Homo sapiens: one gene and its partners. The protein of the gene in region 1 purifies or fractionates together with the protein of each later gene. This does not show direct contact. Each region holds a gene or a part of one and is shown on either strand. Other genes may lie near its edges.

Region 1 (10,197 bases):
CCATTCACAATTGCTACAAAGAAAACAAAATACCTAGGAATACAACTTACAAGGGATGTGAAGAATCTCTTCAAGGAGAACTACAAACCACTGCTCAAGGAAATAAGAGAGGACAGAAACAAATGGAAAAACATTCCATACTCATGGATACAAAGAATCAGTATCATGAACATGGCCATACTGCCCAAAGTAATTTATAGATTCAATGCTATCCCCATCAAGCTACCATGGACTTTCTTCACAGAATTCAGAAAAAACTGCTTTAAATTTCATATGGAACCAAAAAGGAGACCGCATAGCCAAGACAATCCTAAGCAAAAAGAACAAAGATGGAGGCATCACACTGTCTGACTTCAAACTATACTACAAGGCTATAGTAACCAAAACAGCATGGTACTGGTAACAAAACAGATATATAGACCCATGGAACAGAACAGAGGCTTCAGAAATAACACCACACATCTACAACTATCTGATCTTTGACAAACCTGAGAAAAACAAGCAATGGGGAAAGGATTCCTCATTTAATAAATGGTGTTGAGAAAACTGGCTAGCCATATGCAGAAAGCTGAAACTGGATCTCTTCCTTAAACCTTATACAAAAATTAACTCAAGATGGATTAAATACTTAAACGTAAGACCTAAAACCCTAAAAACCCTAGAAGAAAACCTAGGCAATACCATTCAGGATATAGGCATGGGCAAAGACTTTATGACTAAAACATCAAAAGCAATGGCAACAAAAGCCAAAATAGACAAATGGGATCTAATTAAAGAGCTTCTGCACAGCAAAAGAAACTATCAGCAGAGTGAACAGACAACCTAGGGAATGGGAGAAAATTTTTGCTATCTGACAAAGGGCTAATATCCAGAATCTACAAAGAACTTAAATTTACAAGAAAAAAACAAACAACCCCATCAAAAAGTGGGGGAAGGATGTGAACAGACACTTCTCAAAAGAAAACATTTATGCAGTCAACAAACATATGAAAAAATGCTCAATGTCACAGGTCATTAGAGAAATGTGAATCAAAACCACAATGAGATACCGTCTCCCACCAGTTAGAATGGCAATCATTAAAAAGTCAGGAAGCAACAGGTGCTGGAGAGGATGTGGAGAAATAAGAACGGTTTTACACGGTTGGTGGGACTGTAAACTAGTTCAACCATTGTGGAAGTCAGTGTGGCAATTCCTCAAGGATCCAGAACTAGAAATACCATTTGACCGAGCCATCCCATTACTGGGTATATACCCAAAGGATTATAAATCATGCTGCTATAAAGACACAGGCACACGTATGTTTATTGTGGCACTATTCACAATAGCAAAGACTTGGAACCAACCCAAATGTCCAACAATGATAGACTGGATTAAGAAAATATGGCACATATACACTGTGGAATACTATGCAGCCATAAAAATGGATGAGTTCATGTCCTTTGTAGGGACATGGATGAAGCTGGAAACCATCATTCTCAGCAAGCTATCGCAAGGACAAAAAACCAAACACCGTATGTTCTCACTCATAGGTGGGAATCGAACAATGAGAACACTTGGACACAGGAAGGGGAACATCACAGACCGGGGCCTGTTGTGGGGTGGGGGGGAGGGGGCAGGAATAGCATTAGGAGATATACCTAATGTAAATGACGAGTTAATGGGTGCAGCACACCAACATGGCACATGTATACATATGTAACAACAAACCTGCACGTTGTGCACATGTACCCTAGAACTTAAAGTACAATTAAAAAAATAAATAAAAGAAAGTTCACCATAAAAATACATATACATTTTGAAATATGGAATTTCAACTCATTTGGCAGCAGTTACAGAGACCCAAGTTTAATGAAGGCTTGTTAAAGTTGCTCTTTTTCCTTGTTTTTAATTTTTTATAAAATAATCAAAACTCTATTGGCATGAACAGCATTTTAAAATCTTCAGTATTTTGTCTGCTGTGTGTGTCATTTGAAACAGACCTTTTTCCCAAACATAATCAAAGAGAGAAACGTTATGTTTGCATTTCTTTGTTCAAGGTGTTTATTGCATCTCAGAGGGCGTACATGCACTGGGTTTTTAAACTGAAATACAAAGAAAGCCATTTTGAAATTGGTTTTAGGTAATTTTTCCCCATTACAGTGTATGTTATCCCCACAGTAAATTCAGATACAACCACTTTTAAATGGTACCATACATCTATTAAATAATTTGAAAAATAGGCAAACACCTTTCCAACCCAATATGCTTTTATGAAGAGCTGCCAAGCTACTAGCAACACTGATCAACAGTGACCTCATTTATGCATCAAAATCTTAAGCCAAGCCATCAGCACAGACAGTATGACAACAAATTAAAACTTAAAGAATACAGTATGTACAGTAAAAGATACAATTCTCTGAATTAGTTTAAATCCTAATCACAATGTTACAACAAAACCTACTTTGAGCTCAGTTGAAGGATGGAAGAACACTAGTCTACAAAACACACAAAGAAACACTAAATTAACAGATGTACTAAAAACCCACAGTAAAGTAAAGATATTTGCAGTAATCTTTAAATTACAGATATACCTTGGGGTGCCTTCAGAATCACTTGAATAGCACCTCTCTAACCGCATTTTCATGAACATGACACAAACAGACCCTTTACTTTTCAGTGCATTTAATCAAGAATGAATAAATAGGTCAATTTAGATGCAAAACCTGTCAAATATAATTAAAATATATATATTTTAATATAGCAGTGATAAATAGGGGATTCTTCCCATACGATTTTTCGTTCTTGATAAGGTAGCTTCAAAGAGAAGTATTTATTATGGACGTTAACCTTTATATTTTTTAAAATAAAATTTCTTAACATATACAGTGCCACAAAAATAAACATTTCTCACAACAGTTGAAGTTCCTGTGATTGGAAAAATGTACTCCACACTGAAAAAGTTTTGTATATTTATGAGTGTTTTCCTTATTATCTGGTATTATCACACTACGCTTGTAACAGAGATACAGAAGAAAAGATAATTTATGGGAAGAGTTTGGGGTTTGTTCAAAAGTTATATGTACATTGAAACCTTCAAAAACACAGACGTCTTTCCAAATAGCTCGCCACACAACAGCTGCATCATCTGTCCTCAGGTGAAGTCCAAAAAAGCACTAACGGCATCAGTAACATCCATTCATTGTTTACATCGTACAATACACAAATAATCCAAATACACTACAATTTCAAGAGTAGGGATAACAGCTAAGGTAGTACATATTCCTAATGTTCACTTTCACGGCTGTGTTACACATTTTGGAAGAGAAGTTATGAGTAAGTATTGGGTTTGGTACTGGTGGCTCCCTTTGAAACTCAGCATCAATCTTATTTGAAGTCTCCAAACTCATTTATTTTCCTATTCAGTCACAAATATTGCAGCTGTAAAGAAAACAAAAACTAGAATTAGAAAACAAGATTATTACATAGTCCTCAAACATTTTACCTCCCTTGCAATTTTACTTCATAGTTTCTGAAAACAACTTTTACATAAAAAGGTCTCTGCATGGACAAATTCAAATTTACATACTTTTCATAGCTCTTTAAAACAAGCTTAAAATTTTTAAAGTTTAGCCAGAAATTAAAAAAAAACTTTTGATGTATAGTTTCATTTTAGATAATAATTATATCAACAAAAATTTGAATTTAGATACATATTAGAAATTTTAGTAGCAGGACATTCGGTATAGCATTCAGTATCTAAGAGCAGCCAACCTTTAAAAAGGGCAGCTAAAGAAAAAGGGGGCATGGCAATGACCTTACATTATTTTTTCATGTATTCAGTTATGGTGTTCAATGAGTCACTTTCTAAACAGCTGAACCAGTGACAGAATAGAAGAGAACAGAGAGATCCCTGGCGACCCGATGCCTTTCCTCAGCCACTTCCCACTCATCTCCCTGGCTAATTCATGCATCATTCATTTCTGCTGGAAACATTTGTGGGGTCTTAAGGCTTAGCCGCATAGATAACTCTTCATAAAATAGTAATTCTCTCTGTGTCTCTGTCTTTGTCTGTCTCTGTCTCTCTTTCTCTTTGTCTGTCTCTGTCTCTCTCAGGCAAGGACTGTCTCAAGCATATCTGTTTCCTGTACTTATCAAAGTTCCTGGCATATGATTAGGGCAACATTTACTAAGTAAGAGGTGAATACAGGCTGCTCTATGCAGTTTCCTTGGTCACTCCTGAAACTATTAAGTGTTCATTGTCTCACTTATGTCTACATTAGCCAATCCAAAGTGGAATAGAAAAGTTGGGCATAAGGAGAGTTTACTTGACTGAGATGTTAATACCTTAGAATAATGCATCATTAATCTTGTATAAGAAAAAAAAAACAAATCAAGAATCCACAAAAATCTTAGTAGACATTAGGGAAGGGTTTTAAGAAATATATGTAGCACAGCAGGTGCATACTGAAAACAACATTGGACAAGAGTCCAAAAACACTGAGCCTCTTACAATTCTTCCCTGTGGGACCCTGGGCAAATTCCTTAATGCCCAAGGATCAGTTCTTTTAGCTGTGAAATGGAGACAAAAAATATCTGGATAGTTTATCTCACATGACTGTTCTATTGAGAAGTGGATGTGAAAAGTACCGTGTAAATTATGTTCATCCATTCAGCAAGGATTTGTTGAGAACCTACCCACTGTGTTAGGTGCTGGGGTCAACAGTAAACATTTTTCCTTCATTCGTTTCCTTCCATAACTTCAGCATGAGTCATTTCATAAATTATATGAAATTTGTGAAATTTAAAACTAGAACATTAGAAATTTAAAACTCTGCTTGAATGCAGAAATGTAAAGGGTAATAATCTAAGCTTTATGAGGCAAAAGAAGGATAAACAAAATAAAAATACAATTATGCAGTCAAATATATTCTTAGATGATTTCTAAATGCAATAGTATAAATGTTAGCTTTCTATAAATTCAAGTCATCATGTAATAAAGTGGTAATTTTCTAATTTACCAAGTAGCTTGGGCACCTTTTTGCTTTATTAAAGCTAATCGTTGTGCTTTCCAGGATAAGGACAATTTGGAGGTTACTTTCCCTCCTAGTTACATAAATTAAGATTTAAAAAACTCTTAAAGAGAGCTTTTAATATCAAATTTAAAAGTATAAACACTCAAATTATTACTATTATACACAGCTATTCAAAACGCAGAAATAATGAGTACCTCTGAAATAGCTAAGCATTGTATAGCTCATTATTACAAGCCTACAGGAAAAGCTCAATATTAGATACCTTAAATTGTTTACAAGAAATCCTTGATGTTAAGATCCGCTAATGGGTCCTTTGCTGGAGGTTTCTTGGGACTCTGACTGGCAGGTGTAGGGCTTGGAGAAAGCTAATGGGAAAAAGCCAGCCCCAAAGAGCAGGAATAGAAAGCAGAGAGAGAATGAGACATGGGGGGAAGAGGGGGCAGGGGGAGAGAGGGAGAGGGGGAGAGAGAGAGAGAGAGAGAGAGAGAGAGAGAGAGAGAGAGAGAGAGAGAGAGAAAAGCATTAGGCAGAACACATATCAAAGAAAACAAACCTGCAGAAGATTAGATGGTTAAAGGCTTATGAAATCTACTTGTTCTACATAGTCACAGAGTTGTGTTTAATTCTGGACTGGTAAAATATACTTCAACTGATATTTGGCTTTCTTGAACTTCTCTGACATCAGATTTAGCCAAAGTAAAATTTGGGGACTCCAGTAGAACAATATGGGTATGACTTAGGGAAGATGTGAAACACTAGTAACATAAAGATATTATGAACAAACAGTAAAACAAACAAACAACCGTTTTCTCTATACAAAAGCATTTTTACTTTCAGTCATTAGTACCTCTAAACTAATAAATCTATTTAAATGGCTTTTCCTGTAGTGAGAGTGAATTTGAAGGAAAAATAGGAAACGGTTTGCAGAAAGCTATTTAAGAAATTACTTACACTTATTAGCTAAATATACTAGAATTTCATATACATTATTTTAAGTGAAAATCAGTCAAGTTTGAGGGCACTGTTTGTTTCACATGACCAAATAGTTTCCTGGTAGTGAATGCCACTAAAATTCTAATGCAATCTATTCAGCTCTCAGAGAAGGCCAAAACTAATTATTAAATACTATAGGAAAGAATCATATTGGACTTGTTGCAAAAGTAACAAATAATTAACTTGCCTTGTTTCTGTTTAACCAGAATCTAAATTATTTTTTCATTGTGTCACAGATATAACTTCTGGGAGCTGACTTTTACAGGATACAAGGTCTTGAAAAATCTCATGTAGTTTATAGAGTAATAGTTGACATCTAGGCTTTGAGTCTAATTAATCTCCTATGCTTGTAGTAACATGCTGGGACTGTGGGGCAGTGTTGTATATTTTTATTAGTTCAGTGAACAGAGTTCCAGAAGTATGGATTTTGAGATTTGGTCCTATGTCCAGAAACTACTGACTAATTATATTATCTATCTGTCAAATTTCCATGTTTAAAACTGGGATATGGGCTGGGTGTGATGGCTCACATCTGTAAAATCCCAGCACTTTGGGAGGCCGAGGCAGGAGGATCACTTGAGGCCAGGAGTTCGAGGCCACCCTGGGCAACAAGGCAAGGCCTCATCTCTACAAAAAATAATAAAAAAAAAAATAGCTGGGCACAGTGGCTTGCATCTGTGGTCCCAGCTACTCGAGAGGCTGAGGTGAGAGGATCCCTGTTGCCTAGGAGTTCAAGGCTGCAGTGAGCTATGACTGCACCACTGCACTTCAGCCTGGGCAACAGAGTGAGAACCTATCTCAAATAAACAAATAAGCAAACAAAAAAATAACAACAAAAAACCTGGGATCTGTTTCATAGAGAGAGATATATATATAAATAAAGTAAGGCTTGAACTTCCTTAAATCAATTCAAAGATTGGTCCATAATTGATAATTAGGTGAGATGACAATATCATGATACCAGCCAATGAAAGAATGCTGCGATAGTCCAGGCATCAGTAATAAAAAAACTACTTTGTTTTCTGAAGCTACAAACTCACATTTATTTTATTATCTAGTATAATTATGCTTCTTCTCTGATATAGGAAATATAATCTAAAAATTACATAAATATGGTGTATCATTACCTGGCTTATTATGAATTCAATTACTGATTGAAACAATGTATTCCCATCATACTATCTATTTTTCATTTTCATTCTTCTAATTAAGTAAATAAATTGTTGCTAACTTTGGTATTACACAATAAAAACAACTGCCTTAAGTAATAAAATTATATTTATTTATTTCTGAAGCTTTCAGTATATCAAACACAATAAGGTTAAAAGAAATCTCAGTAACATTGTTCCAAGTGCATAATAACAGAAATATTTCTTTTTTTTCAAAAAGATGATAGTCATGGAACTATTCAAACATCAAGGAAATATTTATGATAAATGAGATCCCTTAGAATTTAAGTATATCTAAGTTATACCTAACCTCAACCATTATACCCAAAACCTTCCTGACTGTCCCCAAAAACAACACTACACAGGGTTCACCAGTCTTCACATAGACTAGAAAATTTCTCCTGAAGCCAGTTATGGCCAGTAATGGCCATGAAGGCTAGGGTTTCTCACATTCTAAATTTCTGTCTTTCAACATCCACCATTCTTTCTCTTGGTCCCTGTTGCTTTTGAGGGGCAAAGTGAAGAAGCTGAAAGGAAATTTTGGGAACAGGTCAATGGATTTAGAGATGCATCAAGGAAGCAAAAGGGATTAAAGTATACTCAGAAAGTTCACAGCAGCAGGTATTCCATGGATAAGACAGTATAAATACTGATTTGATAAGTTAAAAATATTATAGGACTGAAAACATTTACTCATATCATTAAAATATATTTGAGCTATTTGCTCTAGTTTGTAAAGCATGCTGCTACCAAAGTAGTAATTTGGTGTCCTGCCCATCCAAGTCAATTTCTCATGATGAAAACTTCTTTGGTTCTACATGTAACATCACCTTGGCCAGACAATTTAAAAGAGGAATCAGGAAAGCATGATTCATCACTAAGACTAGCACCACTAGCAGCAAAACGGTTCAACAAAGTGTAACATATTTTGGCATTTTTGAAGGGTAAGTAGCACAGTGTGTAGTAAGGAATTTAGCTTTACCTAAACTGAGGTTTTTTCCTTTGCCCAGAAAGGGAACCTCTAAATCCTTATAATTTCTCAAATGATAGGCATGTCTTTGTTATTCAAGGTGGGCTCTGGGAACAACACCTGACAGTTTATGCTAACAAGGTGACTCAGAGTGGAGGCAGAAAGCCCAACCATGAGATTTTAGGGCTGGGTCTTTGGGCCACATGAAACCAGCCTGATCTTCAGGGAGGAACAGGGGTTGAAGATTGAGTTCCACAAAATGGGTAACAATTCAACCAACCAATCCTACATAATGAAGCATCAATAAATGCTGGATGCTGAAGCTCAGGTGAGCTTGCGATACTGCATGTGTACTGTCACATGATGATGTCCACAGGAGAACCCACCTCTGAGGACAAAGAAGCTTCATGTTTAGAACTTTCCCAGATGATGTTTATGCATCTCTTCCTATAACTGGATCTAATTTGTATCCTTTTACTACAATAAAACTCTTATAAGTTTAGTACTTTCCTGAGTTCTGTGAATCATTCTAGGAAACTATCTAACCTGGCCATGGAAAAACCTCGAATTTGTAGCCAGCTAGTCTGAAGTGGGGGTGGTCCTGGGGACTCACAAATATGTGTCTTGCGTCTGGAGTGAGGAGATTCTAAAAGGGAGTATTCTCACAGACTTTGCAGTTTGGCAAACTTATTGCAGTTAGTGTCACGAGTCTTGGGTGGACATGGCAGTCTGGAGGACTGTGCTGCCAACCTTTCTGGCTAACGCTGGGAACACATACTAAAACTACAGACCAGAAGCATTCATTTCTCTGGGACACATGCCTTGGATGCCCTGAATATCTGGATGTTCTCAGGAACCAATATGAATTAAGTAGGAAGAGAATGGAGGGATCTTTAGACAGTGAGTTATTTCCATCACTTTTTCCCCCCCAAATCTCACTTTTGCAGATCTGTCTTCCAAGCTCCCTTTACTTCTGAAGCAACAGGTATGAGGATTACATTAGGTAAAAACACTTTTTAAACAGTTTGCTACACCAATGTTTTACACTTATTAGTTAATGTCACTGATTTGTGGACATTGAAGAAACTGACCTGCGTGCCAGGTACAGCGGCAGCTCCAAAGGGGGGCCTCATCATGGGCTGTGCAAACATGACCGGCTGCTGAGGCATCATGGGCATGCCTGTCCCAGCAGGAGGCTGAGGAGGAAGAATGGAGAGTGGTTCAGAGCATGAGTGGAACTCACTAGGGCACTATCCTGACATTTATTGCTTTTATGTACTTCTGACAATATTTGAGGAATCCAGGACTATGAGGAAGCATAATTTGTAATTTTAATTAGGGATAATGTGAGGCTGTACTGTGAGGGAGAGAGTCGCTAAGGTGGGTGGGTAGCATAAGCCTGGTTGGCCACATGGTATCCCCATCCCAACCAAGCTTTGTTGTTGTTTATTCATCTTCTGTAAGCATAATTCTTGGAAAGAGAAAAATTTGTTTCTTTATGAAAGATGGTCCTAAAATTGGCTGGTAAAATTGGTGAGTAAAAAGTCCTAGTATAATAATGAAGGGTTGATTTTGATGATTGGGCTAATACTATATTTTGTAAATTTTATAGCAAAAATGATATAACAATGTACTATAGAAATTAATTTGATGGTAGAACATAAGTATTTTATAACTCATTTTATCACTTCATGTGTAGACTACCTAAGGTTTAAAGCAGATGACAACTTTTTAAGTTTTACTTACTGTGTTTTGGGAAAAATTATATTCTGTAGGAATACTTAGTAATTTGGGATTTGGCAAATTATTTAGAAATGTTGATTACAATTTTTAGCACACGTCATCACTCACCATTCCAAATCCTGCTCCAGGTTGTCCAACCGATGGGGCCCCGGCAACAGGAGGAACTGAACTGGTTGGAGGTACAGCTCCTTGCTACACAGATAGACAGACATACACATATAAATAACACAAAAACACACAAACACATGCACGACAATAAACAAACAAAAAGAACAATATAATTTGGTATTTATTTATTTATTTTAAAGA
Region 2 (11,239 bases), on another chromosome or scaffold:
AGGCAATTAGGGGTGATATTAACTATTCAAACCACAGATGAATATGGTAATATCCAATCTGAAAGATCTGGGTTTGAATCCCAACTCAGCTAGATTCTGGCTGTGTAAACCTTAAGTTTTTCACCTCTCTGAACCTAGGTTTCCTCATTTTGTGTAGAGTTCAAATGTTAAAAGACTTAAGGGCTATCAGCCACGTAACAGCTGACACCTGTTTATTCAGGAATACACTATTTCTGGAAGTCTCACATGCACTCAGAAAACAGCTGCAGCTGCAAACTGCCCTGTCCTCCACATCTGCCTGCTGCTGAGCGTCTTGGAGATGCCTTAGAGCCATTGCTACCTACGATGAGAAGACAACGGCAATGCCAAGTGTGATGACCAGCCCCCAAGATGACTCAAAGTTTTGGGGTAATTTGTTATTGTTTGGGCTCAGAAAATGATACCCCAAAATGAAGGCTTCAGAAGCATAAGTTTCTCTCTGACTTTCTCCCACTTTCCTGTCTCTAGCCCCTCATTCTCCCCTGAGGCTAGCCAAAGAAACTAGAATTCCTCTTTTTTTTTTTTTGAGAGGGAGCTTCGCTCTTGTTGCCCAGGCTGGAGTGCTGTGGCGTGATCGCCGGCTCACCGCAAGCTCCGCCTCCCAGGTTCAAGCCATTCTCCTGCCTCAGCCTCCCGAGTAGCTGGGATTACAGGCATGTGCCACCACACCCGGCTACTTTTGTAAGGTGAGTCGTAGACACCAGAACCTCTTTTCCCCAAAGCCAGTCATAAAACTTAAAAGTATTACTCTAACTTTCCCCCACATTTCTGCATAAAAACTGGCCATAAAGAAATGATCTGACTTACTTTGCTTGATTGTAGGTCATAAGACCCCGATTCCAGAGAAAGTCCTGCCCTGTACCTAGAAGGAAGGAATGTTGCACAGAAAGGCCAAGAGGAATCTAGACAGGCAGACCCTGCTGTCTCCCCACTCAGTCTGTTATTGTTATCAGAAAGGGGCCCCAATCTAGACCCCAAAAGAGGGTTCTTGGATCTCGCCCAAGAAGGAATTCAGGGTGAGTCCGTAATGTGAAAGCAAGTTTATTAAGAAAGTAAAGGAATAAAAGAATGGCTACTCCATAGACAGAGCAGACGGCTGTCGGCTGCCCACTTTTATGGTTATTTCTTGATTATATGCTAAACAAGGGGTGGACTATTCATGCCTACCCTTTTTAGACCATATAGGGTAACTTCCTGACGTTGCCCTGGCATTTATAAACTGTCATGGTGCTGGTGGGAGTGTAGCAGTGAGGATCTCCAGAAGTCACTCTCATTGCCATCTTGGTTTTGGCGGGTTTTGTCCAGCTTCTTTACTGTCATCTGTTTTATCAGCAAGGTCTTTATGACCTGTATCTTGTGCTCACCCTCTATCTCACCCTATGACTTAAAATGCCTAACCATCTAGGAATGTAGCGCAGTAGGTCTCAGCCTCATTTTACCTAGCCCCTATTCAAGATGGAGTTGCTCTGGTTCAAACACCCCTGACATTAGCATTAGATCATACCCTTTTTTCTTCAATCATATTTCTACATGGCTGTTCATACTTCATTGACCCTAAGTATAAAAATAGACAGTTTCCCCCTGTACTTTTGGGTCTTCATTCTGAAGACTCTTGTGTAATGTAAAACTTATATTAAATAAATTTATACATCTTTTCTTCTATTAATCTGCCTTTGTTCAGGTGATTTTATAGCAAACCTTCTGAGGGTGAAGTTTCCCCTCCCTTCCTACATTATGTAGCGATAGACAACTAACACAAATTTTATTAAAAAGAATAGTTTTTCCATAACAAAACCCTAAAATGTTAGAATGGTTTTAGAACTGAGCAGAGGGTAGAAGCTGGAAGGACTTTGAGAACAATGTTAGTGAAAGACTAGAGTCTTTGCTGGATGCGGTGGCTCACACCTGTAATCCCAGCACTTTGGGAGGCAGAGGCGGGCACATCACCTGAGGTCGGGAGTTCGAGACCAGCCTGATCAACATGGAGAGGCCCCATCCCTACTAGAAATACAAAATTAGCCGGGCGTGGTGGCTCATGCCTGTAATCCCAGCTACTCGGGAGGCTGAGGCATGAGTATCACTTGAACCCTGGAGGCAGAGGTTGCGGTGTGCCGAGATCATGCCATTGCACTCCAGCCTGGGCAACAAGAGCGAAAAACACTAGAGCCTTTGTAGGTGAGAACTTAAAGGGAAATGAGGAACATGTTTTTGGAAACTGGAGGAAAAGGGTCCTTGTTATGTAGTGGCAGCAGTTTAGTAACATTGTCACCTGCAGTAATGTGCAAAGTAGAAATTGTGCCTAACCAGCTGAGTGTTCTAGCTAAGGATATTTCATGGTAGACTGTTGAAGGTGCTAACTGATGTTTTCTTGCTGATTATAGCAAAATGTGAAAAGAAAGAGATCATCTAAAGGAAGGACTTAAAAAAAAATCCGGAACTTGCAAGTTTTGAAAATTCCCAGCTTCCCCAGATGGCAAATGATGCTACTGTGAAAAAATGGCTTCCAGGCAAGGAAAAACTCCAGGACATTCCCAGCAAAACATCATCAAATGATGAAGGTAAGAGTGCGGCTATAAAATCCTTTGTTCAGACCTCAAAAGGATCTATAGCAGTGATTCATAGAATCATTCAAACAAACCATAGAGCTTGGAGGAAGTTTATAGTGTTGTGCTTTAGTGGTTTCACTGAGGGATTCTACAGAGTAAAGAAGGGTTTATCTTGAAAAGAGCTGTATGTATAATTTTTGTCCAATGGTATGAGCCCCAATTCGATTTATAGAGGATTCACAAAGTTTTCAAAACAATTCTTTGGCAGAAGCACTGCCAGCATGGACACACAGACAGAGTACAAAATGAAAAGTAGCCTTTGGACCTCCTAAATTCTACTTGCAGTAAGCAAATTGATACAATTACACAGCTGCAAACATGAACTACTTTTAATGGAAAAGGAAAGATGACTCAGAGAGTGGAATCAAGAGCTCAATGGGTGAAATAAAAAGCCATGGGGAGTCATTCCTGAACAAGGAGTAGGTTTGAACCCTAATCAAACAGCTTCCAAAATGTGTCTACCTGGATTTAAGGATTCTATGAGCCAGTGACTTCTCAGGCCTCCTGTCTTTCCTCCTTTTTGAGCAGGACTGTCTGTACCACTAATCTTTTTTATTTTTATTTTAGACAGAGTATTGCTCTGTCACCCAGGCTGGAGTGCAGTGGTGTGATCTCAGCTCACTGCAACCTCCGCCTCCTGGGTTCAAGCAATTCTCCTGCCTCAGCCTCCTGAGTAGCTGGGATTACAGGCATGCACCACCACGCCTGGCTAATTTTTGTATTTTTTTAGTAGAGATGGGGTTTCACCATGTTGGCCAGGCTGGTCTCCAACTCCTGATCTCAGATGACCCGCCCGCCTCGGCCTCCCAAAGTGCTAGGATTATAGGCATGAGCCACTGCGCCCAGCCTGTACCAGTTATCTTAAACCTGTCCCACCATTGCATGTTGGGGTGTGGGAGACATAGGCATTCAAATGAACTATACTTGAGGATCTGCACTTAAAACACTACACCAAAGTGCTTCATCCACACCTGGTCCCAATTTAGATGACAGGACTCCAGACTTTGAACTGATAATATAATGGGTTGAGACTTTTGGGGACCTTGGGAAGAAGTGAGTGTATTTTACATTTGGGAGATACGTGAATCATTGGTGGCCAAAGGGCAGACTGTGACAGCCAACCTCCAAGATGGCCCCAAAGATTCCCATCTCTTGGTTTTCAAGCCCTTGTGCAGTTTCTGCCCACACTGAATAGAGCTAATCTCTAACCAATAAGCTATGTACGAAATGATGGCGTGTGACTTCTGAACTTAGGTTATAAAAGACATTGCATCTTCCATCTTGCCCTCTCTTGGATCACTTGCTTTGTGAGAATTCAACTGCCCTGTCTTGAAGACATTCCAGCAGCCCTATAGAAAGTGGTGAGGCCTTTTGCCAACAGCCATGTGAATGAACCATCTTGGAAGCAAATTCTATGCTTGTAGGTAAGCCTTCAAGTGACGATAGCACAGCCAACATCTTTACCAAAATCTCTTGAAAGACCCTAAGTCAGAACCACTCAGCTAAGTCACTCCCAGAGTCCTTGCTCACAGAAACTATGTAAGATAATAAATGTTTATTGTTTTAAGCTGCTACATTTTGATGTCATTTTCTATGTAGCAATAGGTTAATATAACAAGGGTGCTATTTGTGGACACTCCCAAAGATACTAATTCCTGGGGAATCAGATGGTTCGGATTTCTCTGCAGAGGGGTACAGAGATCTGCCTCATTGAGTCTGCCACACCTTGTCACCAGAAATTTATGGAGTCCCTTTTTAATAGTTTAATCTGGCCAGGTGTGGTGGTTCATACCTGTAATCCCAGAACTTTGAGAGGTCGAGGCTGGTGGATCACTTGAGTCTAGGAGTTCGAGAGCAACCTGGGCAACATGGCAAAACCCCATCTCTACTAAAAATACTAAAGGTAGCCGGGCATGGTGGCACACACCTGTAATCCTAGCTACTTGGGAGGCTGAGGCAGGAGAATCGCTTGAACCCGGGACGCAGAGGTTGCAGTGAGCCAAGATCGTGCCAACGCACTCCAGCCTGGGCAAAAGAGCAAGACTCCATCTTAAAAAAAAAAAGTTTAATCTGTCTGCCTCTAAGACCCTTTCTCCACAGAGTGCTCAAGAAGAATTGTAAAGTGTCAGATACTGAACTGCACAGTATTATATTTTAACTTTCTGTCAGATAACATTAAGAAGAAACAGTAATAACAATAATGATGACATGACTCCCCCTCCCCTCATCAAATACCCTGGATACAACAATGTCCTTTTAAGATATTAAAAAGGCCAGGCCTGTGGCTCACACCTATAATCCCAGCACTTTGGGAGCCTGAGGTGGGAGGATCACTTGAGTCCAGGAGTTCAAGACCAGTCTGGGCAACATAGTGAGACCCCGTCTCTACAAAAAATACCAAAACAAGTAGTGGGGCTTAGTGGCTCACGCCTGTGGTCCTAGCTACTTGGGAGGCACTTGGGAGGACTGCTTGAGCCCAAGAGGCTGAGGCTGCAGTGAACTGTGATTGAACCACTGCACTCCTGCCTGGGCAACAGAGAGAGACCCTGTCACCAAAAAAAAAAATAAATAAAAAAAATAAAAATTATTTTCATTGAATAAAAGACTTTCTAAATGTGAGAACGTTATGTTTGTAAAGGCTAAGTTGTTTCCTTTTAAGCCTGGGGGAGGACAGGAGTAGAAATAACCAAGCAAGGCACACTTCTCATTAGGTATATTAACGTTGATGTTTGAGTTGACATTTGTTGAATTTTTTTTTTCAGAATGGTGCTTCAATTCATGTTTCAAAAGCAGACACAGAAATAATTTCCAGAGAAATGAGCTGGGGGAAAACAGAAATGTGTATGGAATTGGAACAAAATAAACCTGATTTTTTTCAACATTGTATAGAATTGTTCTGAGGTTAAAAAGAAAGGTTTCTAAAAAATAAATATCTAACAAAAGCTGCACAAAGATTAGGCATACATTATCCATGGAGACATTAAAAACTATTAAAAAGGTTTTTTTACCCCACCTCATCCCCTGGTATGTTTGAGGAAAGCATCTGGAAATTCTAACTCAAAATCATCTAAGGGAATCAATGTAAAACAGACACCATTCCATCCCCTTTCATCCTTCTTAATACACCTCAGCCTCTCCCTTGACTAGATAAAAACGTAATTTTCCCTCTCCCAAATACAGTGCAAAACAAAAACTCTTCTGTGAATGGAGAGACATGGATATGGGGTAGAGGTGGAGACTTGCCTACATTACCAGCAGCCAGCCGAAAATGCCCTGTGTGTGTAAAATATGTTCCTTCAAAGGGGCATTGTGAGCACTAAATATAATTTGTGCCAAAAATAATAATGAAAGCTTAGTGAATACTCTACAGTGCAGGCATCGTTACATTTAATCCACAAAACTACCCCATGAGGTAGATATTTACCGTTCTTTTCACTTAACATCTTTTTTAAAAAGCGGAAAACAGAATGATGAATTAACTTGTCCATGGTCATAAAACTGATAGGTAGTGGCACCAGGATTTGGGGACCATCGGGCAGAGGATCTTCCAAAACCGGCTTTTAAAGAGCCACAAAAAGATGTAGCCGGGTTCTTGGCACTACAGTACTGCTTTATAAACAACAGTTCCCTTCTTTTCTCTTAGAGCCCAGTGGGAATCTAGAGGGACACCTTACATAAAGGAAAATGACTGCAACCTGGACCTGTCACTCGACAAATACTGCCTCTCCCCACCTCACTTCACCTGACGTCTCTGCCCAACCGAAGGCAGCTCTCAGAAAACCGCACAGAGGTTACCACCCCAGAAATTCTGAGATCCTAGGAGGTAGCAATGCAAATAGACAAAGCACAGTATTGCTTTGGATCGAAAATATTTGTTTGCTCATCCTAACTCCAATTCCCCTAGCCTAGAACAAACATAGCCCTTCCGCACTCAGGAAATCCCAAGAGGTCAGGTTCAGTCTGGTAAACAACACTGTCCGGGCACCTTGCAGAACACTGGGGACTGTGACGGGCGGCGACAAATTGGCACAAGAGAGACTGAAATGCACAGGGACACCAGCCTAGTGGCCGTGAAAACTCAAGTTGACACTTCCAGGGAGGGAATGGGGGAGGTGGAGCCCAATTCCTGCTTCTGGAGAGAGTAAGAGACTTCCTCCATCCTCCTTCTCCCTCCTCCTCCTCCAAGGCACGCTGAGATTTGGAGCGGAGGAGCTGAGCCCCGCGGGAAAAGCAGAAAAGGGTCATTGCCACTTTAAATGACTCAGGAAGTAAAAGGAGGCCTCCTGACGGGGAAAGGGAAAGTGGAACCGGGGCGGCGCGGGGGCCGGCGGCTGCCGCGATCTCTCCCTGGTAGCGGGAGGCTGAGCGGGCGGCGCGACGCGGGGGCCGACGGGGGCGCCGGGTGGCCGCGCCGGAAGTGCCTTGCGCGGCAGAGGAAGCGCAGGGACAGAGCGGAGCAGGCCGAGCCGGCGGAAAGGGTCTTTGCTGCTGCGCCCGGGCAGGGGCTGCCGCGGCCCCAGGTCCCGCTTCGAGACGCGGCGCGGTCCAGGCGGGAGGCGACTCCCTAGGAAGGGACCCGGGGCGGGAGGAGGAAGTGAGGCCGCGCGGAAGGAAGGCGGCGAGCCCCGGGGCCCCGAGGCCTTGGCCGCGTCACAGCACCCACATGGCCTCTGGAGTGGGCGCGGCCTTCGAGGAACTGCCTCACGACGGCACGTGTGACGAGTGCGAGCCCGACGAGGCTCCGGGGGCCGAGGAAGTGTGCCGAGAATGCGGCTTCTGCTACTGCCGCCGCCATGCCGAGGCGCACAGGCAGAAGTTCCTCAGTCACCATCTGGCCGAATACGTCCACGGCTCCCAGGCCTGGACCCCGCCAGCTGACGGAGAGGGGGCGGGGAAGGAAGAAGCGGAGGTCAAGGTGGAGCAGGAGAGGGAGATAGAAAGCGAGGCAGGGGAAGAGAGTGAGTCGGAGGAAGAGAGCGAGTCAGAGGAAGAGAGCGAGACAGAGGAAGAGAGTGAGGATGAGAGCGATGAGGAGAGTGAAGAAGACAGCGAGGAAGAAATGGAGGATGAGCAAGAAAGCGAGGCCGAAGAAGACAACCAAGAAGAAGGGGAATCCGAGGCGGAGGGAGAAACTGAGGCAGAAAGTGAATTTGACCCAGAAATAGAAATGGAAGCAGAGAGAGTGGCCAAGAGGAAGTGTCCGGACCATGGGCTTGATTTGAGTACCTATTGCCAGGAAGATAGGCAGCTCATCTGTGTCCTGTGTCCAGTCATTGGGGCTCACCAGGGCCACCAACTCTCCACCCTAGACGAAGCCTTTGAAGAATTAAGAGTAAGTATTGGGCCTTCAGAGCATAAACCTAGGGGTCAGGACACCTGGGTTTCAACTCAGGTGGCCTGGCTGTGACCACATTCGCTTTCACTGTGTCCCTAAGAAGCTAGTCTTTCCAACTTTTTGGGAGCAGTTCTTATTCACCGTTTTTGGTTGAACTCTTTTGAGAATCTGATGAAAGTTCTGGACTCTGACCTGAGAAAATACACACAAAATCTAGTATACAATTTCTAGAAAATTGCAAGTTTCTGGTCTGTGGATCCCAGGTAAAGCATTTCTTGGGAGTTTTGACCCCACTTAGGCCAATTTCCACAGCATCACTATTGTTGAAACTGGTGCTTTGTGCTAGGGCTCTTGATAAGGCAATCTTTTTGCCTACTTGAAAACATGGGAAATAGGATTTTGCCACATGAATCCAAGCAAGTGATACGTCTGCATTGAAAAGACTAACAAAATAGTTTTAATAGTAACTTCATATGTGCCCCGAGTTCATTTTAGATTCTTCGTGTTTGAAACTTAGTAGAAAAGGAGGGTAAGAAGATGGAGGCCAAATTGGGGTGGGAGTGGAAGTTCCCATGTCCTCTGTCTGGATCTTTGTCTGTCGTGGACCTTACTGGTCCCCCAGAACAGTGGACACTTCGGAAATATTTGTTGAATGAATGAATTTGCAGACGATGCACCTTTTATTCATATTGTGGATGTTTACTATCATTGAGAGAAACTGCTGGTGTTAATCGGGGAGGGAGGGGGAAATTTTGAGTGGAGTGATCAGTTCATTAAGTAATCTGTATTAGTGAACATTGTCATATTATGATGACTTTTGCTTCCCTGAATAGGGAATAGCTGGCATTGGGATAACAAATACCTTGAGAGTGAAGATCCTCTGTATTAGGTTTTCCCTTTTTTAGTGCCTATTTATAATTGTAAAATGCACATTCAGAAAGTGTGTAAAAACTTACAGTCTAACAAATAATTATAAAACAAGTACTGAGGTAGTCTCCATCCAGATTAAGAAATAGAACATTACTAGCAATATTGAAGCCTTTTCCCCATACCTTTTCCAATTATAACCATCTCTCTTCTGCATAAGTAAGCATAATCTTGACTTCTGTGATCATTTCCTTGCTTACCTTTATGCTTTTACTCCATGTGTATGCATTCCTAAACTTATTTGAACTTGACACTATGGGTGTCATATTTTTATCATGCATTCTTCTGGGTTTTGCTTCATTTTCTCAACATTGTGTTTGTGAGAGTCATCCTATGAGTGACTGTAGTTTATTCACTTTCATTACTATTTCGAATTCCATTTTATGAATATGCCACAAGTTATCTATTCTGTCATAGATGGTCATTTGATTTGTTCCCAGGTTTGGGAGCGTCGGGCTGTTACAAACAATGTCAGTGTAAATATTCTTGGTCATGTCTCGGTGTACATTTAACATACATTTAAGTGGAATATAAACGCAGGAGTGAAATTGCTGTGTCAGAGGCTATGCATATCTTCAGTAATACTACATGTTGCCAACTATTTTCCAGAGTGGTTGTACCAGTTTGAATCACTATGAAGAGTATATGAGAGTTCCTGTTGCTCTGTATCTTCAAAACTTGCTATTACTGTATTTTTCATTTTTGTCAATCTTGTGGCTATGTAATGGTATTTTATTGTGGTTTTAATTTTCATTCCTCTGATTACTAATGACTTTGAGGATCTTTTATACTTCCTCTGTGAAGTACCTAGTCAGTTCTTTTGCCCATTTTTCTATTGAGTTGTCTTTTCTCATTATATGAGTTTTTATATATCTGTTTTTTTTTTTTTTTTTTTTTTTTTTGAGATAGAGTCTTGCTCTGTTGCCCAGGCTGGAGTACAGTGGCTAGATCTCAGCTCACTGGAACCTGCGCCTCCCAGGTTCAAACGATTCTCCTGCCTCAGCCATCTGAGTAGCTGGGATTACAGGCACATGCCACAATGCCTAGCTAATTTTTGTATTTTTTTTTTAGTAGAGATGTTTTTGCCATGTTGACCAGGCTGGTCTTGAACTCCTGACCTCAGGTGATCTGCCTGCCAAAGTGTTGGGATTATAGGTGTTAGCCACTGTGCCCAGCTATATATTTGTTTCTGATTTTTTTTGTTGTTCTTTCTATGTGGGTTGCAAATATCTTCTATGTGGTTTTTCTTTTTAAAGAAGTTGTGCCTTGAATAGAAGCTCTTCATTTTAATGTGGTAAAACTTATCAATACTTTTCCTTATGGTTAGTGCTTTTTGTGTCTTGTTCTACTTAGTATTGATTTTTGTGTAGTAGAAGTAGGGGCGCAATTTCATTTTTTCTCCATACAGATGGCCAATTGCTATTGCTGTATTTATTGAAAAGCCCTTCCTTTGTGCACTGATTTGCTGTCCCACTGTCATATATCAAGTGCCCATAATATGTGTGAATGTGTTTCTTGGTTCTTCTGTTCTCTACTGTTTATCTGTTAGTATATCCCTGTGTGAACAGCATGTTTTCTCAGTTATCCCTTTATAATATGTCTTAATATCTGGTAAAGCAGGTCCTTCCATCTTGTCCTACAAGAGTGTGTTGGCCAGTTTTGGCACTTTACATTTCTTAGAATCATAGTATTAAAAAGCCTGCAGGAGTGTATTTGGATATTAAATTTATAAGCCAATATAGGGAGAATTAATATCATTACAACATGAAGTCTTCTGATTCATTAATTTAGGTCTTTTTTATTGCTTCGCAGTTAAGTTTTATATTTTTTTCCTCAAAGATTTTTCACATCATTGTAAAATTTATTCCTAGATACTTCATAATTTTATAATATTGTAGAAAATATGAGCCAGGCACAGTGGCTCACACCTGTCAGCTATATGGAAGGCTGAGGTGGGAGGATTGCTTCAGTCTAGGAGTTTGAGGCTGCAGTGAGTTATGATCCTGCCATTTCCCTCCAGCCTGGTCGACACGGCAAGACCCTATCTCTAAAATAAAAATAAATGGTTTTAAGTTTTGTTTTCTAATTGAATATAGGAATATGATTAACTTTTATATATTGTTTTTTTGTGATCTATCTGCTGAATTATCTTACATATCCTAATAATTTATCTGTAGATTTATTCTACATACCTGATTGTATTATGTGTGAAGAGAGATACTTTTTGTTTGTTTCTTTTCAATCCTTATATCTGTTATTTGTTTTTTCTTGCCTTACTGCATTGGATAGCACCCCGAGTATTATGTTGAATGGATGTGGTTGGTGGGTATTC
Region 3 (10,480 bases), on another chromosome or scaffold:
TAAGACTGAAGAGCTAAATTTTATTTAATTATAATTTTATTTTATTTAATTATAATTAATTTTAATAGCCACTAGTGGCTAGTAACTTCTGTCCTGGACAGTGCAGCCTTAGGTCTATTTATATGATGATTTAACAGGGCTATGTATATATTTTTCTTTATCTTCATCAATATGAGGTGTCAGGGCGAGGCTAGTGAACACTCTGCCGTGAAGCAGTTTAAATCACACAGGATTTATCTGTTCTTTGACCATTTAAAAGATCCATCCATGAAAGCATATGGACGAAACCCTCCGGGAAGATCTGTCATTGGCAATTTATTCCAATAATGGGCCAGCGGGAAAAAGAGGAGGCTTCAAACTAACCACAGAGTAAAGTCAAGAGAGTGTGGGGAAAGTTACACCCAGGACAAGCAGAGGGTCAGGAGGGACAAAGGCTGAGAAGGGGCTGCTGATCGGGCAGCTCCTGGGATAGGACATGGGTGTTAAGTCAAATCTATCCTAAAATGCCTATCTGATGCCAGTGGTGCTAACATCCTAATTTTGTACATCTTCAAGTTTTCGATTCTATGGTGCACAGCACTGTGTCCTCGTGGGAGGCAGGAACAGCCCTCCCACTCTATATAGCAAACAGCCCATTCCCAAATCCCTAGTGGCACAGATGACTTGAGAGAGAGATTATGCCTGCCTGGGCTAGATCAAGACGTGCTGGCTTCCCCTTCCTTCTCACCGATCCCTCCTAAGGGCCAGCAAGGAGAGCCTTGTCAGGCGTGTGCGTCACCGAATGTCCACAGCACAGCTTGGAGGGAGGGGCAGGCCTGGCCAAGGGAGCAGGAGCTTCCGTGGCTTGGGGACAGGATGCTGCTCATGGGGGTCTCAGGGTCACATGCCCTCCTTCCTCCAGCATATCAGGGATCTGGACCAGCTTGTTTGTCCCTGCTTTGACAGAGGAGAAATCAAAGTTGTGTTGTTCTGACGCTGTGGGAAAAGGCGCAGGCGTCACCTCCAGACCCTGCCCAGCGTCCTTCAACGTGATTGATGCTCACATCTGGAGAGAAATACTGAGCAGGAATCCATCTGACACACATCTGCTAATTTTAAGACTGTTAAAAGAAATGCATTTTCTTTGGTTTGATAATTGGTGCATTAAGTGAATCCGCTCTTAAGCAAATCAACCCCCTGGCAAACTTGTTTCTGGGGCACTGGCCTTGAGTCTGCATGCTGTGTTCCCCTGATGCATATTCTGGGTAGTAAAGCTCTTTCCAAGAAACGATGGTGTGTTTCTTGGTTTCACAATTCCCCCACCCCTGTTCTCTCCTCTCTCCAATCAGTGGCCTTGAGTTTCCTCGGGCTGGGTCGCGCCCACGGGCTTCCCTCTCAGAGTTTGTGAGACACATGGGAAACTGCTGGGCGGCTCCTGAATTGCTACATTTGTTACCGCCACCTACTTAGTGGTCCCTCGAGCACCAGTTTCTTCATCCAGCCTCTTGCTGATTCAGATATTTAAGACTCGGTGACCGGGAGCAGACATGAGGACCCCGAGGATGTCACCCAGAGAGACGCTACAGAGAACGGGATTCTGTGGCGGCAGCACACAGATGACTGTTCATGTTGAAATTGGTTAAACGCACAGATTAGCAATGATGAAAGACAGGGAAGGAGGTTCATTATTGTAAGAGTTATCTTCCGTTTCATCATGGATTTCTGGTATTTTCGCCAGCTCCTCTGCAGAACCAATTTTGGTGCCAAGAACCAGAGCCTTTTTTCTATGCTTGTTTCCTCTGTGGCCTTGCACAGCGTCCACACCACCTGGTTTGAGCAGAGCACACTGCGAGGCGTGTTTTGACCTTGCGGTGCTCAAGTCACCTGCACCTGATGCGTGCCCACACGCTGGGGCCCTGCCACTCCCCGGGGCTCACGAGGCACCTGTGAAAAGTCTTCTCACAGGTAGAGGCAGCTCTCCTTTTAGTGACATATTTAACCAATAGGGCAGTCAACAAAAGACAAGCACAAATGAAACAATAAGAAACTCAAAAACCTCTTAACTACCTCTGCCACCACACTGTTTACATCAGGGGTCCCCAAGCCCCAGCTGTGGCCCAGTAAGTGTCCCTGGCCTGTGAGGAACCGAATTGCACGGCAGGAGGTGATTGGCAGGTAAGAGAGCATTTCCCGCCTGAGCTCCGCCTCCTGCCAGGTCAGCGGCAGCGTTAGATACTCATAGAGCTCCCATAGTTGTCTGTTGTGAACTGTGCTTGCGAGGGATCTAGCCTGTGTGCTCCTTATGAGAACGAGAATGAGGTGGAACAGCTTCATCCTGAAACCATCTCCAACCCTGCCCCCAGCCTCCTCCCCCAGCCCCTCACATCTGTGGAAAAATTGTCTTCTATGAAACCGGTCTCTGGTACCAAAAAGGTTGGGGACCACTGGTTTACATGATTCTTTGCCTCCCAAATGTGTCACCTGCTGACATGTACTCTCATAGTAAGACCCATCATAGCAATGCCACTTGGGCATTCAGTATTCTCGACCTAACACTACCTTGACACAGGCTTTTCATAGCACTGCCTCTCTGCTCACTGACATTTTCAACACAGTACTCTACGCTCATGCGGCCCCTTCCCATCGGAAGACATCTGGGGACTTAACAAGCCCCCCCCTAATCACATAGCAGACTGGGCCAATTAACGCCCCAGCCACTGGCTCATTCTGAGCAAACAGCCTCAGGCACAGAATGAACAATGTGACCTCGGCTGTAACCAACTGGCCATCAGCGGCCCACCAGGCAGGGTCATCAGAACCCATATTCTTACAAAAGTCCTTTCCTAAGAGTACTGAGAGGTGACCTGGGTGCGTCCTTTCCTAAGAGTTCTGGGAGGTGACCTGGGTGTGTCCCTTCTTTGCAATGTGAAATGATGAAAAGAGCATGAAATAAGGAAAGACGGGTGTCAGAAGGGGGTGAGCCACAGACAGGAAACGCATGGGGGTTTCTGCTAAACCCGCTTCAGATAAGCCTGGACTGGAGCAGGGCGGACCACTCAGCAGTCCCCTGGAAGACAGTGCCTGTCCGGGACCCCCAGGCCCCACTTGCTCCCTCCCTCTGCTCCTTGGAAAACATGGTTCTCCCCCCTTTTCCATTTCTCTGCATTCGCCTATACTCAGGCAATGAGAAGTTACAAGTTGCCATTTGAAATAAGGGCTGACAATAGCCAGGGCTGCCTTGGAGACAGGGCAGGATGCACCTGGGAAGGATCCACCCAGAAGGGGGTTCTACTAATGAGAACGATGTTCTGCCCTTGGCACAGCCTGAACGCCAAAGCTGACGCAGGGATTGCTGCTCTGGTGAAAACAGTGAGAGAACATTTGAGTTTACGTAGAGAGAATGGGAAAGAGAGGGTGAGGGACTTCAGAATGTGGAAATGGGGGATCTGAGACTCAAGAGTGGAGGGGTGAGGACGGGGCCCGTGAGACCGCATTTTCCTGCCAGAGTAAAGGGGACAGGGTGTCAGCCCTGCGGTCAGCTGCATGCTGGTCCGCAGCCTCTGCTCAGGCTTTGAGAAGGTGGTCGTGGCCGGCCATGGCCACCAGGCTGGTACTGGCTGTACCAGGGCCAGCAGGTTGGGCCCTCCCCCGAGGCCGGTGGTGAAACCTGGGCTATAATGAAATCCAGGGGTGACTGGTGGTCCAGGGCCGAGGGAGAGTGGGGGATCACACGGTGGGGAGGCTCTGACGCCGGCCCCTCCCCACCAACACGAGCGCCTCCTGCTCCATGTGGGGCTGAACTGCTCTTGCTTCACCTAACGGTTTGTTGCGGACCCTGTTCAGCATGGGAACCCAAAGTCCCTCTTCTACTGCTCCTTCTCTCTCCTTTCTTGGTGCTTTGTCTCCTCAACATGCTTGAGCTCACGTCCCCGGGGCTGGTCCCCATCCAAATTCCCTTCCAGTGCGGTCTCCTATGGCCCTGCAGCTTTAAATGCTGGGGTCAGCTGAACAATGCTGCCACCCCCTGCCCCAAGGCATTCATGTTCTAGTCCCAAGAACCTGTGAAAATGTCACCTCACATAGCAAAAGGGACTTTGCCGATGGAATGACATTAAGGATCCTGAGATGGGAAGAGGGTCCTGGATGATACGGGCAGTTCCTAAATGTAACCATATTTCTCCTCATAGGGGAAAGAGGAAGGCAGGAAAGTCAAAGAGAGAGATGTGAGCATGGAGGCACAGGTGAGGGAGGGAGGGTGAGAGAGAGGCAGTGGCAGAAAGAGACATTGTTAGACATTGTGCTGATGGCCTTGGAGGTGGAGGAGGGGCCAGGAGCCAGGGAATCCAGGAAGCCTCTAGAACCTGGAAAAGGCCGAGAGATGGGTCCTCCCTCCAGCCTCCAGCTGGAATGTAGCTCTGAGGACAACTTGATTTTAGGACCTCTGACCTGCAGAACTGCAGGACAGCTGTGTGTTTTAAACCACTAAATCTGTACTGTACAAGTCACATATGCAGCAGTCCCAGAAATGAATACAAATACCTTTCATCCGTTTCACCATATGAAGCTTCACCTTTACGAAGCTCTCGTAACGCATCTCCTCTGAGCTCCGGACTAGTGTATGTATCCAACACCCGCTCAACACACCTGCGTGATGTCACTTCAACATGCCTGAAACATTTCCCCCAAACCTCTCCATCTGTGGCCTCCCCAGCAGAGCTGACCTCAACTCTGTCCTTGAAGTTGCTCAGGCCACAACCTTGAAGTTGCCCTTGATCCCTCTCACCCTGGAGACCCCCCATCTGATCTCTGGTCAAGCTTGCTGGCTCTGCCTGCAAAGTGCATCTGGCCACTTCACAGAGCCCACCGCTGTGAAACAGAAACTAGGACTTGCTGTTGCTCTGCTCGAAGGTCTGTGGTGACTCAGGGGAAGGGTGAGGCCCTGTGAAGCTCTACAGGACCCCCGTGACTGGCACCAGATCCCATGCCCCCCACCTGTTACATCTCCAACTGCCTCTCTTCCTGGCCCCCTCATTTACTCCACTCCAGCCTCGCCAGCCTGTGCTCTCCCTGGGGCACACCAGGCTCCCTCCTGCCATCTTCAGCGGGGCCCTCTGCCCTCCACTCTCTGGCCTCTGCCCTCCACCATCTGCCTTCTGCCTTCTGCCCTCTGCCCTCCACCCTCTGCCCTCTGTCCTCTGCTCTCTGCCCCCCCCTTCGCCGGGAGCATCCTCTCAGCTTTTGCTTAACTACTTCCCTCATATGCTTCCTTCCCATAGGGTGACCCAATCTACTAAAGACATCAAGAAAGGATAAGGGGGCCCAGAAGATAGAGGGGGGAGGAAGATGCGCAGTGGATAGAGTGAACAAGGATGGGTGGGTTTTAGCCCAGTCACTGGGCAGAGTGGAACAAAACCGTGCTGGGGTCACCCATGGTGAGGACGGGATGCTACCTGGCATTGCTGAAAAGAGAGGTGGAAGGGCAGCCTCTGTCCTAAAGACTTGATTCCAACATCTAGGTGTTTCAGAATGGCATGGAGACTTTCCCCATGTATCACCTTTTGCTCTATTCTTCAAAGATGTGGCCTAAGTATCACCTGGCTTAGGATATATCACCCTGGAAGCTGGGTCAAGTTGAAATAAAACTATTCAGAGAACAAGTGAATGTCAGTTTGGCAAGTCAGATCCTCTCATTGAGAAAACCAAGGCCAGAAAGAAGAGCTGTGTCCCAGACCTGGCTTCCTGTCCATCACTCTTCACCCTGCACGTGGCTGTTGACCCACCCAGACAGCACCCATATGATGGCCCTGGGGGAAGATCAGGGACCCCGGGCTCCGTGGGCTCAGCACGGCACACTCACTCTAGCCGTTCCTCTTCTTTCCTTCGGAGGTCAAAATCTCGTTGAACAACTTCCAAGACATGCTGGGCCTCTTCATCAGTGAGCTTGGAAAGATCCAGTTTCTTCCCCATTTCTGCTTCTTGTCGGGGTCACACCTGGAATGTCACAGGATCACAAGTCATCAGTCCCAGAAGCCTACCAATACCAATCAAGTCACAGAGTAAGAGACAACACAGAACGCTGCTGACTTCTCAGGACATCTGTCTGTACTTGGGTTAAATGGTTTTCTAATGCTTGTCTGGAAACTTGTGTAGTTTAATGAATTTAAGTGAATCTATGCAAAATTCCCACATTCGAATTTTAAAAGGGATCTACTTCCTACTCTCCCAAACACACTCAGCCACGGGTCTCTCATTTTCTTTCCACTGTGGGATGAACGTCAGTGATCTCCCCATCCAGGGGCATGGCTCCTCTCCCTCACCTAGGGTTGGGCTTTGCAATGGAAAACCCTGGGAGAAATGCGCCATTCCTGAGGCTTCTCGCCTTAAGTTTCTTGGGAGAGGGAACAGCACAGAAAAGAGGAAACTTCACAGCAAATTCATAGTCAGCTCAGAGTCTCCTGTGCATCTCCTAGACCTCCTAGAGCGATGCTGCAGGCTCTGTGTGGGCAGGGACGCCTGGATGACTGACCCACTAGGTGGAAAAGTTGGGAGACTCCACAGCACTTGGAAGGTTTCACCATCCTCTGGGCGTGGGGGGCTGTTTAGGTTTGCCATGTGTGTGTTTGGGGGTGGTTCCAGGGGGAGGTCATATGAGCCTGATGCCTGTGAGGGCGATGTGCTTGTGCTGGGAATATCCACATAATTTCCCTGGGGAGGCAAAAGTGATGCAACTTGGGAGAACAAAACATCTGGGCAGGATGAGCAGTAGGTGCTGAGATTTATTTACTCGAGAGGTCAGCTGTGGGGCTGCCCAGCAGGGATTCTCATGCCTGGGGTGTATTAGGATCACCTAACACTACTGGTGGCCAGGCCTCACCCTCAGCAAATCTAATTAAATTTTTTAAAATTTTACTTAATTTTTTTTTTTTTTTTTAGAGACGAGTTCTCACTATGCAGCCCAGGCTGGTCTTGAACTCCTGGGCTCAAGTAATCCTTCTGCCTTGGCCTCCCAAAGAGCCATGGTGCCTGTCTGAGAATCTGGTGTGACTCAGCTGCTCAGCAGAGCAGCGGCCCCACCCAATGCACTATGTGATGCTGTGTTTGTAGGTAACCTGATGACCAAGAAGTCAAACCTCAGATGATCTTATGCCCTTTTTTTTTGAAGTTCATCAGACCTGATCCCAATCAATGTCCAAAGGACAGAGGAAGGAAAATCCAAATGTCAAAAGCCAAGATAGGTGGAACCTTAGAATCTTGCTTGCTACTCAAAATGTGGTTCGTGGACTGGCAGCATCCCCTGGGAACTTGTTAGAAGTACAGACTCTCAGGCTCCAACCCAGACCTACTCATTCAGAATCTGCCTTTGAACAAGATCTCCAGGCAGCTCGAGTGCACGTGTTGGCCCATGCTGTTGTCCTCAGACCCCTCTGAGTAGCAAAGCTCTAGGGGAGACTCATTCACTTGGGTAGTGGGCGGCGAGTCACAGAGGACCTTGGCCTGTACATCCTGTCAGGTGGTTGATGGGTGTGAGGCAGGGGAGTGATGCAGTGGTGGTGGCTGAGCAGAGAATGACAGATCCACTTGCTGGCTTTTCATATGGCAATATCACACAGGCCTCACAGCTTATATTGATGTGGACATTACTGCTGGGTATAAAATTGGAGGAACAATTGTACCAGGGAGAACTTCACCACCAATGCATGCACACTGGGACACTGCAAAACTGTGCACGCTCCCCACAGAGGACTTCCCTGATCATCCTGTGGTTTTTACTCCTTCACCTGTCCCCATCCCTTTAACGTTTCTTTATACCCCTTAACAGTTGGTGATGTCTCATTAGTTATTGTTAAGCTCCACAAGAATAGCACCTCTGTCCGTTCCCAGCACATGGCAGGTGCTTTTCTGTGCTTGCAGCTCCCTGGTGTGCAGCAGGCTGTGCCAGGGAAGCCCTCGGCCCTCAGATGCTGCAGCTACAGACAGACCAGCTCTGCTCTGGGCACTGACGCTTTGGGGAATGGATGACTGGGAGTTCTGTTGTGAGTAACTGAAAGTTTAAAAACCACCTCGTAATTTCAATAAGTTTTCCTTGAGGACTTGAACCTATTTTCTCAGGAACATTAGAGAAGGGGTCCAATCTGTGTGCTTTCAGGGGGAAGTCTCAAAACCACCAAAAAGACACAATTTTGCTTCTGAATTCTGAGAAGCATCTCCCATCAGTGCTGCTGACCATTTGGAAGCGTTTATCATAAAAATACTAACAAAACTCCCCCTGTGCTGGAGACGTACTTCGATTTTGTTGCACAAGAGGTTAACTATGAAAAGGGACATTTTCTGGGCAGATACCATTTAAAATAAAAATGTCTACAGAGCTGTCATGGAAGTCAGCCAAAATAGTCCCTGGCTTATGCCATAAAAATGGAGAAGGATAATTCGTTGAATTTTTTTGCACCCATTCGTCAACATTTCCACTCTCAAACATAAAGTTGAGTGTTTGCAATACAAGAAGAGATTGCCCCAATGCCCTGGGAGCATTCAAACTCTGTTCCTTTACAGTCAGATTTAGGTTCTGGTCAAGAAATGGACTTACTACCGAACTCATTTTTGATGCTCTCACAGAGCACACACTTTCTGGTTTCTAAAGAATTGGAACAAAAAGTTATTATTTGATGCATGACTGGAGTTCATTCACTTTTATTTTTCATGAGTTCTGAAAAAAAAGGGATCATAAGAAGAGCATTCACCGACATTCTATTTTCAGAATGGATGGACAGTGTGACCATCAGCTGAGGCATTATCATTCCCTCTCTTCTCCTAACATAGAAGCCAAAATTCCAGGCCTCAGTTTGAGAAACTTAAATCATGATGTGTGAGGAAGAAAAGCAAAACAAAAGGAAAAACCTGCTTTTCTTGTCTTGCAAGCTTCACATTCTTAGAGCACAGTCAGTGACCAGGAAGTGAATGGATAAAAAGATCACAGAGCATCACAACCAATGTCCTAGAGGCTGCTTGGATATCTGTCCCTCCCCCATTCTATCCCCTTTCAAATGGTTTTCTTTCTTTTTTTTTTTTAGATGAGGTCCTGGTCTGTCGCTCAGGCTGCAGTGCGATAGTGCAATCATGGCTCACTGCTGCCTCGACCTCCATGGGCTCAGGGAGGTGAGGGCAGAGAATATGCTAGACCCATGAGGAGTGCAGGGCTGCTCTGTGCCTGCCCTAGCTGGGTGGGGTGGGGGCTCCCAGAGTATGTGCTGGGGGAGGGCAGACGCCACCCTGCTCTATCTGCTCCTTGTTCCATTTCTGTTTAGATAACGCCTGCTCACGAGGTTCCTGAACAAAACACTTCCACTTACTGCCTGTTCCACTGCTCAGATTCGATCATATTTTAAACATTGGAGACAGCCAGCCTTCCCCAGCAGTTGAATAGCCATAGTGGGGCAGAGGGACGGGACACAGGGATTAATAGGCAGGGAGGAGAGAGTGGAGCTGGTTTTATAAGATGGGTATCCCAGGCCCAGACTGCTGAATTCCAGTAGTGTGTCATCTTTATCCGCTAAAGAGTTGAATTAATTTTTTGGCCAAATTGAAGGGAAATCAGGGTGGGGGTTCCTCCTGGATGAAGAATTGGCTTAACTAGCTCTTGGGCTGGCTGCTTGGGGAGCCTTGGAACAATGGTGATTGTGGGTGATTACTCGCCTGGGCAAACAAACTGGCAAGCTAACAACAGCAGGAATGCTCTCTCTGACTCAGAGCCAAGGTGTGTCGTGTGGTGTTATTCTTGCTGATAAAGGGGAGGTGGCAGAGATGACAACTGTAGTGCCCTCTGCCTTAATCCTTTGTGGCTGTTTCCCGAATGCTGCCGTCCAGGTCAGCCTGTATGGTTATTTCTATAGGTGGGGCCCATCAGTAGGCACTGACCCCCAGCTCTCATCAGTGGCTAAATGAGCACATTTCCACCTAGAAGGGCCACTCCCTTCCCTACAAGTGAACCAGGCACATCTGTGCTGTAGCCACAAGGGTCTGGAATGGCCCCAGCAGCAACAGCACTGGGAGGGTGTTCTGCCCCTCAGCCACCTGCCCACCAACTTGCCATCCCCTCTGCTCTCCCAGTTCTCTGGGGAGTTGGTGGTAAACCTCATTTATAAATGGACATGAGTTCTGCATTTACACCTAAAGCCTCAGTGCTAGTCTCTACCGCAAGGATGGGTCCCAGGTGAGGCTGTAGGAGGATGGTGCTGAGAGGTGGGAGCTGGGTTCCCATCCCAGTTCAGGCACAGCCAGCCCAGCCACCTGGGAAAGATGCCCCTCCTCTCAGGGTCTTAGTTTCCCCATCTGTACCATGGACAATGGCTGAGCTCCAAGACCTCTCTGGCCCTCTCCAGCCCTGGATGATGCCAGGATGTTGAAATTAAGAGGGGGAGTGATGGTGTGGGGGTAGTGGGGAGGAGTAGGGGCAAAGACTGTTCCTCCAGAGGTTGCTTCTGAAAAGAACAAGACAGTTGGCCCT

Evidence for each region.
Region 2: the proteins of SNAP91 (region 1) and TRIM44 purify together in Homo sapiens (co-immunoprecipitation; 2 studies listed by BioGRID and IntAct, with this or other methods). This does not show direct contact.
Region 3: the proteins of SNAP91 (region 1) and MLPH purify together in Homo sapiens (co-immunoprecipitation; 2 studies listed by BioGRID and IntAct, with this or other methods). This does not show direct contact.

What each region holds. Positions count from the first base shown.
Region 1 is NC_000006.12:83,550,868-83,561,064, forward strand, and holds the end of SNAP91 (clathrin coat assembly protein AP180), read right to left. Parts: intron 10,081-10,197; coding exon 9,997-10,080; intron 9,342-9,996; coding exon 9,237-9,341; intron 5,379-9,236; coding exon 5,286-5,378; 3' UTR 5,276-5,285; intron 3,419-5,275; coding exon of another isoform or gene 3,404-3,418; 3' UTR 2,018-3,403; downstream 1-2,017. UniProt on the Homo sapiens protein: Adaptins are components of the adapter complexes which link clathrin to receptors in coated vesicles. Clathrin-associated protein complexes are believed to interact with the cytoplasmic tails of membrane proteins, leading to their selection and concentration.
Region 2 is NC_000011.10:35,655,804-35,667,042, forward strand, and holds the start of TRIM44 (tripartite motif-containing protein 44), read left to right. Parts: upstream 1-6,971; 5' UTR 6,972-7,308; coding exon 7,309-7,977; intron 7,978-11,239. UniProt on the Homo sapiens protein: May play a role in the process of differentiation and maturation of neuronal cells. May regulate the activity of TRIM17. Is a negative regulator of PAX6 expression.
Region 3 is NC_000002.12:237,488,893-237,499,372, reverse strand, and holds part of MLPH (melanophilin), read right to left. Parts: intron 5,971-10,480; 5' UTR 5,947-5,970; coding exon 5,837-5,946; intron 1-5,836. UniProt on the Homo sapiens protein: Rab effector protein involved in melanosome transport. Serves as link between melanosome-bound RAB27A and the motor protein MYO5A.